Homo sapiens: one gene and its partner. The protein of the gene in region 2 interacts with the protein of the main gene of each other region in a biochemical or structural test. Each region holds a gene or a part of one and is shown on either strand. Other genes may lie near its edges.

What was found. The genes of interacting proteins can lie anywhere in the genome.
Region 1: the proteins of SLC27A2 (region 2) and USP29 form a complex in vitro, tested with the Homo sapiens proteins (one study listed by BioGRID).

Annotation. Positions count from the first base shown.
Region 1 is NC_000019.10:57,118,766-57,122,784, reverse strand, and holds the start of USP29 (ubiquitin carboxyl-terminal hydrolase 29), read right to left. Parts: upstream 2,801-4,019; 5' UTR 2,556-2,800; intron 461-2,555; 5' UTR 311-460; intron 1-310.
Region 2 is NC_000015.10:50,202,696-50,206,195, reverse strand, and holds part of SLC27A2 (long-chain fatty acid transport protein 2), read right to left. Parts: intron 958-3,500; coding exon 833-957; intron 1-832. UniProt on the Homo sapiens protein: Mediates the import of long-chain fatty acids (LCFA) into the cell by facilitating their transport across cell membranes, playing an important role in hepatic fatty acid uptake.

The sequences.
Region 1 (4,019 bases), on a different chromosome or scaffold from region 2:
TCATCATTTTCATTTTGGATGCATGCTCTTTTCTGAAAATGCCAATATCCAATGCCACAGAAAACAGAAAACTATCCCCTCAAAATAAAAACCCAGAATCAGGATTTTCGAATTTACAATTCAACCTCATAAAGGGTAGAAGATGAAATTCCCCTCATCACAATATCTGACAATATCTTTAGGGCATTAAGTTTAGACAGACCCTCCTTCCAACACTCACACACACATACACACACACACACACACACACACACACACACACACACACACATCCCATCACCCAAACAAGCAAACCTTGAATGAAACTTACAGTTTGGAGAGCTGTTCTGGGTGAGTGGATGATAATTCTTTTTTCAGAAATGAGATCTTGCTATGTTGCCCAGGGTGGTCCCAAACTCCTGGCCTCAATCGATCCTCCAGCCTCAGCCTTCCAAAGTGCCTGGATTAGACTCCATAGCGCCTGGAGGAGAATGATGGAAGTTGAGTCTGACAGTGATTATGATGTTCCGACCTTTTATTCCCAGGTGGCTCCACCCATATCACGGGTTTTTCCAGGAAATACGTTTCTTGATTAACTTATCTCTGTGTAAGAGTTTAAAATATTTGTCTAGAAAAGGCTAGATAGTGACTTATTTTACTTTATTTCAATTGGTAATTAAAAACTTTTATTTAGAAATCATTGCAAATATACATAAGAATTGCAAGATTAGTAGAAATAACTTATATTCCCTTCACCCAAATTTACCAATTGTGTATATTTTGCCACATCTGTCTGCTTTCTCTCTCCCTCTTTTGATGTTCTATGTATCTATCTATCTATCTATCTATCTATTTTTTAATAGAGACAAGGTCTTGCTATGTTGCCCAGGTCTCGAACTCCTGACCTCCAGTAATCCACCCGCCTCAGCCTCCCAAAGTGCTGGGATTACAGGCTTGAGCCACCATGCCCAGACATGTTCAAGTCCCTTATATAACAGGATATACTTTTACTCCACTTAATGTTTACCTGTTTTCTTTGTAGTAACCGTGCTTTTTGTTTTATATATATATAATTATATATATATAACATATATGTATATATATAACATATGTAAGTACATATAACATATGTAAGTATATATAACATATGTAAGTATATATAACATATAAGCATATATAACATACATATAAGCATATATAACATATATAAGTATATATAACATACATATAAGTATATATATAACATATATAAGTATACATAGCATATATAAGTATATATAGCATATATAAGTATATATAACATATATAAGTATATATAACATATAAGTATGTATAACATGTATAAGTATATATAACATATATAAGTATATAACATAAGTATATATAACATATAAGTATGTATAACATATATAAGTATATATAACATATATAAGTATATAACATAAGTAGATATAACATATATAAGTATATATAATATATAAGTACATAACATATATAAGTATATAACATATATAAGTATATATAACATATATAAGTATATATATAACATATATATCCTACATTTTCAACACGTGTAACAAATGTGGATAGTTTCAAAAAGATCATTTTACGTTCTAGTAGTTACCCTGTTTGACCAAAGTGTAGTACTTTTATTTTTCTATTGCAGTGCATTTTCTTTTTTTTTTTTGGCGGGAGGTGAGGGAGCGGAGCGGGGATGGAGTCTCACTCTGTCACCGAGGCTGGAGTTTAATGGCGTGATCTCGGCTCACTGCAGCCTCTGCTTCCTGGGTTCAAGTGATTCTCCTGCCTAAGCCTCCTGAGTAGCTGGGATTACAGGAGCCCGCCACCACGCCTGGCTAATTTTTTGTATTTTTAGTAGAGACGGGGTTTCGCTATGTTGCCCAGGCAGTCTCGAACTCCTGATCCGCCCGCCTTGGCCTCCCAAAGTTCTGGAATTACAGGAGTGAGCCACCGTGCCCGGCCTTTTTTCTGTTTTTTTTTTTTTTTTTTTTTTTTTGAGACGGAGTCTCTCGCTCTGTCGCCCAGGCTGGAGTGCAGTGGTGTGATCTCGGCTCACTGCAACCTCCACCTCTGGGGTTCAAGTGATTCTCCTGCCTCAGCCTCCCCAGTAGCTGGGATTACAGGCACCCACCATCATGGCCAGCTAATTTTTGTATTTTTAGTAGAGACAGGGTTTCACCTTGTTGGTCAGGCTGGTCTCAAACTCCTGACCTCAGGTGATCTACCCGCCTCGGCCTCCCAAAGTGCTGGCATGACAGGCGTGAGCCACCGACCCAGCCCTTTTTTCTTTTATATAGTTTTTGAGACAGGGTCTTGCTCTGTTGCCCAGGCTGGAGTGCAGTGGTGCGATCATACCTCACTACACCCTCGATCCCCAAGGCTCAAGTCATCCTCCAACCTCTGCCTCCTGACTATCTGACACTACAGGCGTGGGTAATTTTTAAATTTTTTTGAGACATAGTCTCACTTTGTTGTCCAGGCTGGAGTGCAGTGGCATGATCTCAGCTAGCTAATTTTAAAATTTTTTGTAGAGATGGGTGGGGGGAGGGTCTCACTATGTTGCCCAGGCTGGTCTCCAACTCCTGGGCACAAGCGATCCTCCCGCCTCGGCCTCCCAAAGTGCTGGGATTACAGGCATGAGCCTGGCCAGCATTTTCTGTTTGAATGTTTTTACGTAACCGGAGTCGTCATGATGGAGGTACAGTTCCTTGGACTTCCGGCTCCCATGGCTCTGGAAATCTCAGCTCGGACCCGCCCCTTCCGGCGCCGACTCCCCTGATTCTCCTGGGAACAGAAGAGTTCTGGGCACAGCACGCTGCGTCTGCGCAGTGCCGGGCGCAGGCCTCCCGACCTACGGGTCTAGGTACGGGCTCTAGCGTGGCCGGGGCACATAGAGTTCCTGGCCTAGAGCTGGTGGGGCGTAACGGCAGGAGTTAGGGTTCAGAGAAAACCAGCCCAGGGGCGGGTTCATCCTGTTACCCATTCAGCCTCAAGCGAGGTGGGGTGTGGTAGGTGGGCTGGTGCTAGAAACCACGCCGGGAATTGTTAATAACAGTCATCCCGGCCGGGCGCGGTGGCTCACGCCTGTCATCCCAGCACTTTGGGAGGCCGAGGAGGGCGGATCACCTGAGGTCAGGAGTTTGATATTAGCCTGACCAACGTGGCGAAACCCCGTCTCTACTAAAAATACAAAAATCAGCCGGGCATGGTGGTGGGCGCCTGTAATCCCAGCTACTCGGGAGGCTGAGGCAGGAGAATCGCTTGAACCCGGGAGGCGGAGGTTGCAGTGAGCGGAGATGGCGCCACTACAATCCAGCCTGGGCGACAGAGCGAGACTCCGTCTCAAAACAACAACAAAACCCCCAAAAAAGCGGTCATCCTCCAGGTGGAAGAGACAGAAGAGAGGGTGCGGAAGAGACTTAAAAGTCTTAGGCCTTCAAGCGTGTTTGCCTCAGCCACCCGTGAATCCTACAGGAAAACTAAAACAACTCGGCCACAAGCCCCCAAGTCTTGGGGAAGCGGACGGTTTCCCAGCCGAGCTTTAGGAGGAGGCGCCGCGGGACCTCACGGGTGACGTCGTCCCCGGGGGTAGTTTGCGCAGAGGGTCGCTTTGGGCGCGCTTAGAGTCGCGTGGTGCCTGGGCCAGCGAAGCCCAGGTGCAGTCATTTGTGGCCCTGTCCCGGCGCGCGAGGGGCCAAGGCTGGTCGGGGGCCGGGTCCGCGCGGTAGCAACTGCGTCCTGCCAGCTTCCATCTCTCCCTCTGAGGGCCTGAGCGGCTGCCAGAGTCAGGTCTGCAGGCCGGGCGCTCACGCGTCTGTGCCCAGTGAGGCCCCAAGATGCTGGTGAGGCCTCGACCCTGACTGGTGTCCAGGCTCTTGACACTGTCGTGAGAAGGAATTCATGGATGAGCAGAACAAAGTGTGGAGATTCATTGCGACGGGAATAAGTACGTACTGAAGAAAGAAAAGTGCAGGCATACCACAGAGCATCACGCCCAGCGGGGTTTGGAGCTACCTTTA
Region 2 (3,500 bases):
GCAAAGTCCAAAGGGTGCTAAACACTCTACAATGCACAGAATAAGTCCGCGCGGCAAAGAATTAAAAGCCCAAAATGTCAGCAGTGCCACCATTGATAAATCCTATCTGATACCAGATCTCTGATGAGAGTTGAGGGACTGGGCAGGAGGAGCTCTTGAGAACAACCCCATCGAGAGCTGAACATCTGCAAACAGGGCAGATCCAAGGCCATTGGAGATGCCCTGGGGCATCTGTTCCCAGCTTGGTGACAGACTTGGCTGGCTGGTTTCAAAGTCACACAGAGATTTATTTGTTAAACAGCATTAAGTAAAAGTTTCCTGTATGCCTTCGGTATAACAGAAAACAAGGAGACAAGATGTGGTTCCAGCCATCAAAGATATTACAGCCAAGGAAGGATGGGAGACATGAACACAAACTCCTGCAACATGACAAGGGCCACAGAGGGTAGAAATAAAATGACGTAGGGGAGAAGAGTAATGACTTTTGTTGGAGTGACCCAAATATGTTTAATGTATGAGGTATCATTTGAACTGGGCTTTGACACTGGCTTTTAGTAAGCAGAGGGGGAAATGCAGGATATGCTAGGTGGGGAGTAAGATGTGAAAACAAGTAAAAAGGCAGGAAATAATCATCATCATAATAATAATATTAACTCCCACCTACTAAGTCCCCTCTATATGGTAGGTATAGTGCCAAGTACTTTATCATGATAATTGTATCCTAAACTCAAAACTGATATATGCAAATCAGTTGAAGCCTAGCACAACCCAAAGTGACTTGAATTTCCATCTTACCCATTTCAAAATGATAGTAAAACGGGGGGAGTGTTACCTGTGGTGAGTTGCATAAATACCGAAGCAGTTCACCGATATACTGAATGACAGTGACGTTGTATTTTCTGCAGTCATCCCAAAACTGGCTGGCTGAAAATTTAGTCCGCAAGGCAAGAGTAGCACCTACAGAGAAAGCACAGAAAGTGTCAAGAAAGAAATGGTGGAAAAAATTCTCCCAGTTATGTTTAATTTGTCAACTTTGAACGGTAGAAATTTAAAAATAAATTATATTTGCAAACAAGTATTGAGTACCTTATATTCAAATGCAAAAAATTAGTAAGACATGGTTTTGTTCGATAGGGGCTTCCAATCTATGGAGGAGAAGACTCATACAAAGGTCATTTTAATAAAAGTTAGCTTGCAGTAAGAGATTCAAATGAAGTCCTAAGAGGGAGGGAGGGGAGAGGGAAAGAGATTTCATGCAATATATATATATATTATATTATATATATACTAAATATATGTATAAATAGAGTGAGACTCTGTCTCAAGTATATATATATACACACATACATATATATACACACACATACATATATATTATATATATACACACACACATACATATATATGTATTTTATATATATATATTTGAGACAGAGTCTTGCTCTATTTTTTTTTCTTTTTTTGAGACAGAGTCTCGCTCTGTCACCCAGGCTGGAGTGCAGTGGTGCCATCTCGACTCACTGCAACACCCGCCCCCCAGGTTCAAGTGATTCTCCTGCCTCAGCCTCCTGAGTAGCTGGGATTACAGGCGCGTGCCACCACACCTGGCAAATTTTTTGTATTTTTAGTAGAGAAGGGGTTTCACTGTGTTAGCCAGGATGGTCTCAATCTCCTGACCTCGTGATCTGTACCCCTTGGCCTCCCAAAGTGCTGAGATTACAGGCGTGAGCCACCGTACCTGGCCCGGGTCTCACTCTATTGCCCAGGCTGGAGTTCAGTGGTGAAATCTTGGCTCACTGCAACCTCTGCCTTGTGGGTTCTCGTGCCTCAGCCTCTAAGTAGCTGGGATTACAGGTGGACACCATCATGCCTGGCTAATTTTTGTATTTTTTAAGAAGGGATGGGGTTTTGCCACGTTGACCAGGCTAGTCTCAAACTCCTGACCTCAAGTGATTCGCCCACCTCAACCTCCCAAAGTGCTGGGATTACAGGCATAAGCCACTGTGCCTGGCCCATTCATGCAATATTTTAAATAACTTTGTGCATAAAACAAAGTTTGTGTTAAGTACTTATGTGTAGTATTTTCCACTTGTGGTGTCCTGGTGCTTAAAAAGTTACAGATTTTGGAGCATTTTGGATTTCAAATTTTTGGATTGTGTGTGTGTGTGTGTATGTGTGTGTGTTTGAGCTGCTATAACAAAATAGTACAGATGGGTGGCTTAAACAACATTTATCTCTTGCAGTTCTGGAGGCTGGGAAGTCCCGATCAAGGTGTCTGGTGTCTGGTGAGGGCATTTTTCCTGGTTTGGGGATGGTCATCATCTCCCTGTGTCCTTACATGGAACAGAACAGAGTCAGGAAAGAAGCTGGCTGTCTCCTGTTCTGATAAGGGCACTACCTTTCATGAAGGCACTACTCTCATGACCCAATTACTTCCCAAAGGCCCTACCTGCTAATACCATCATATTGGGGGTTAGGATTTCAACATATACATTTTTGGGGGACACAAATATCCATCCATAACATGCATGCATATACACACACGCATATATGTGTGTGTATATACATATGTGTATATATTTTTATATATACATATATGATTATTTAAAATGAAATGCCACATGAGAGAAAAAGTTGTTTATTTAGCTCAGTCAGAAAGTTACATATAGCTTCCTGGAAGAGTTGGCTATTGAACTTTGCGGTAATGTATACAAGTGACATGAATCCTCCTGGAAGGAGAGAGGATGGCAACTCCAATTTGAATAGTAAAGTCTGAGAAGGAAACAGAAGAGATGGCAAGCCAAGCCAAGCCAAGTATTCTGATGGAGTTGCCATCTTCTCTCCTTCTAGTAGAGCTGAAAAGCTGTGGAAATGGGAGATTACAGAAGAGTGCACACAACTGCAGAAGTTTAAAGCTGATGGAGATTAACATGCAAGTTTCTAAAGATGGAAATGACATGACATAGAATCTAAGACTCAAGTGTCATAACCTAAAATTTTTTTTTTTACAGTCAAGGTCTCACTCTGTCACCCAGGCTGGAGTGCAGTGGTGCAATCACAGCTCACTGCAATCTTGAACTCTTGGACTCAAGCAATTCTTCTACTTCAGCCTCCTGGGTAGCTGGGACTACAGACTTGAGCCACCATGCCTGGCTATATATATATATATATATATTTTTTTTAGAGATGAGGTTTGCTATGTTGCCCAGGCTGGTCTTGAACTCCTGGCCTCAAGCAATCCTCCTGCCTTGGCCTCCCAAAGTGCTGGGAATACAGGTGTGAGCCATTGCACCCAGCCCTAAAATATTTTAAAGGAGTTTGTCTCTTGATATACTGAACAATTATAGCATTACATTATTAGATAGGCAGGCATGAAAAACAGATTATTTTAGATGCTTGCTTGTAATATGTGATTCAAATTGCCTTATTGTTAATGCAAAATTGAAAACTGTTCCTAGCAGACAGCAACGTAGCCAAATTTTGTATTACTGTTCCTTCTG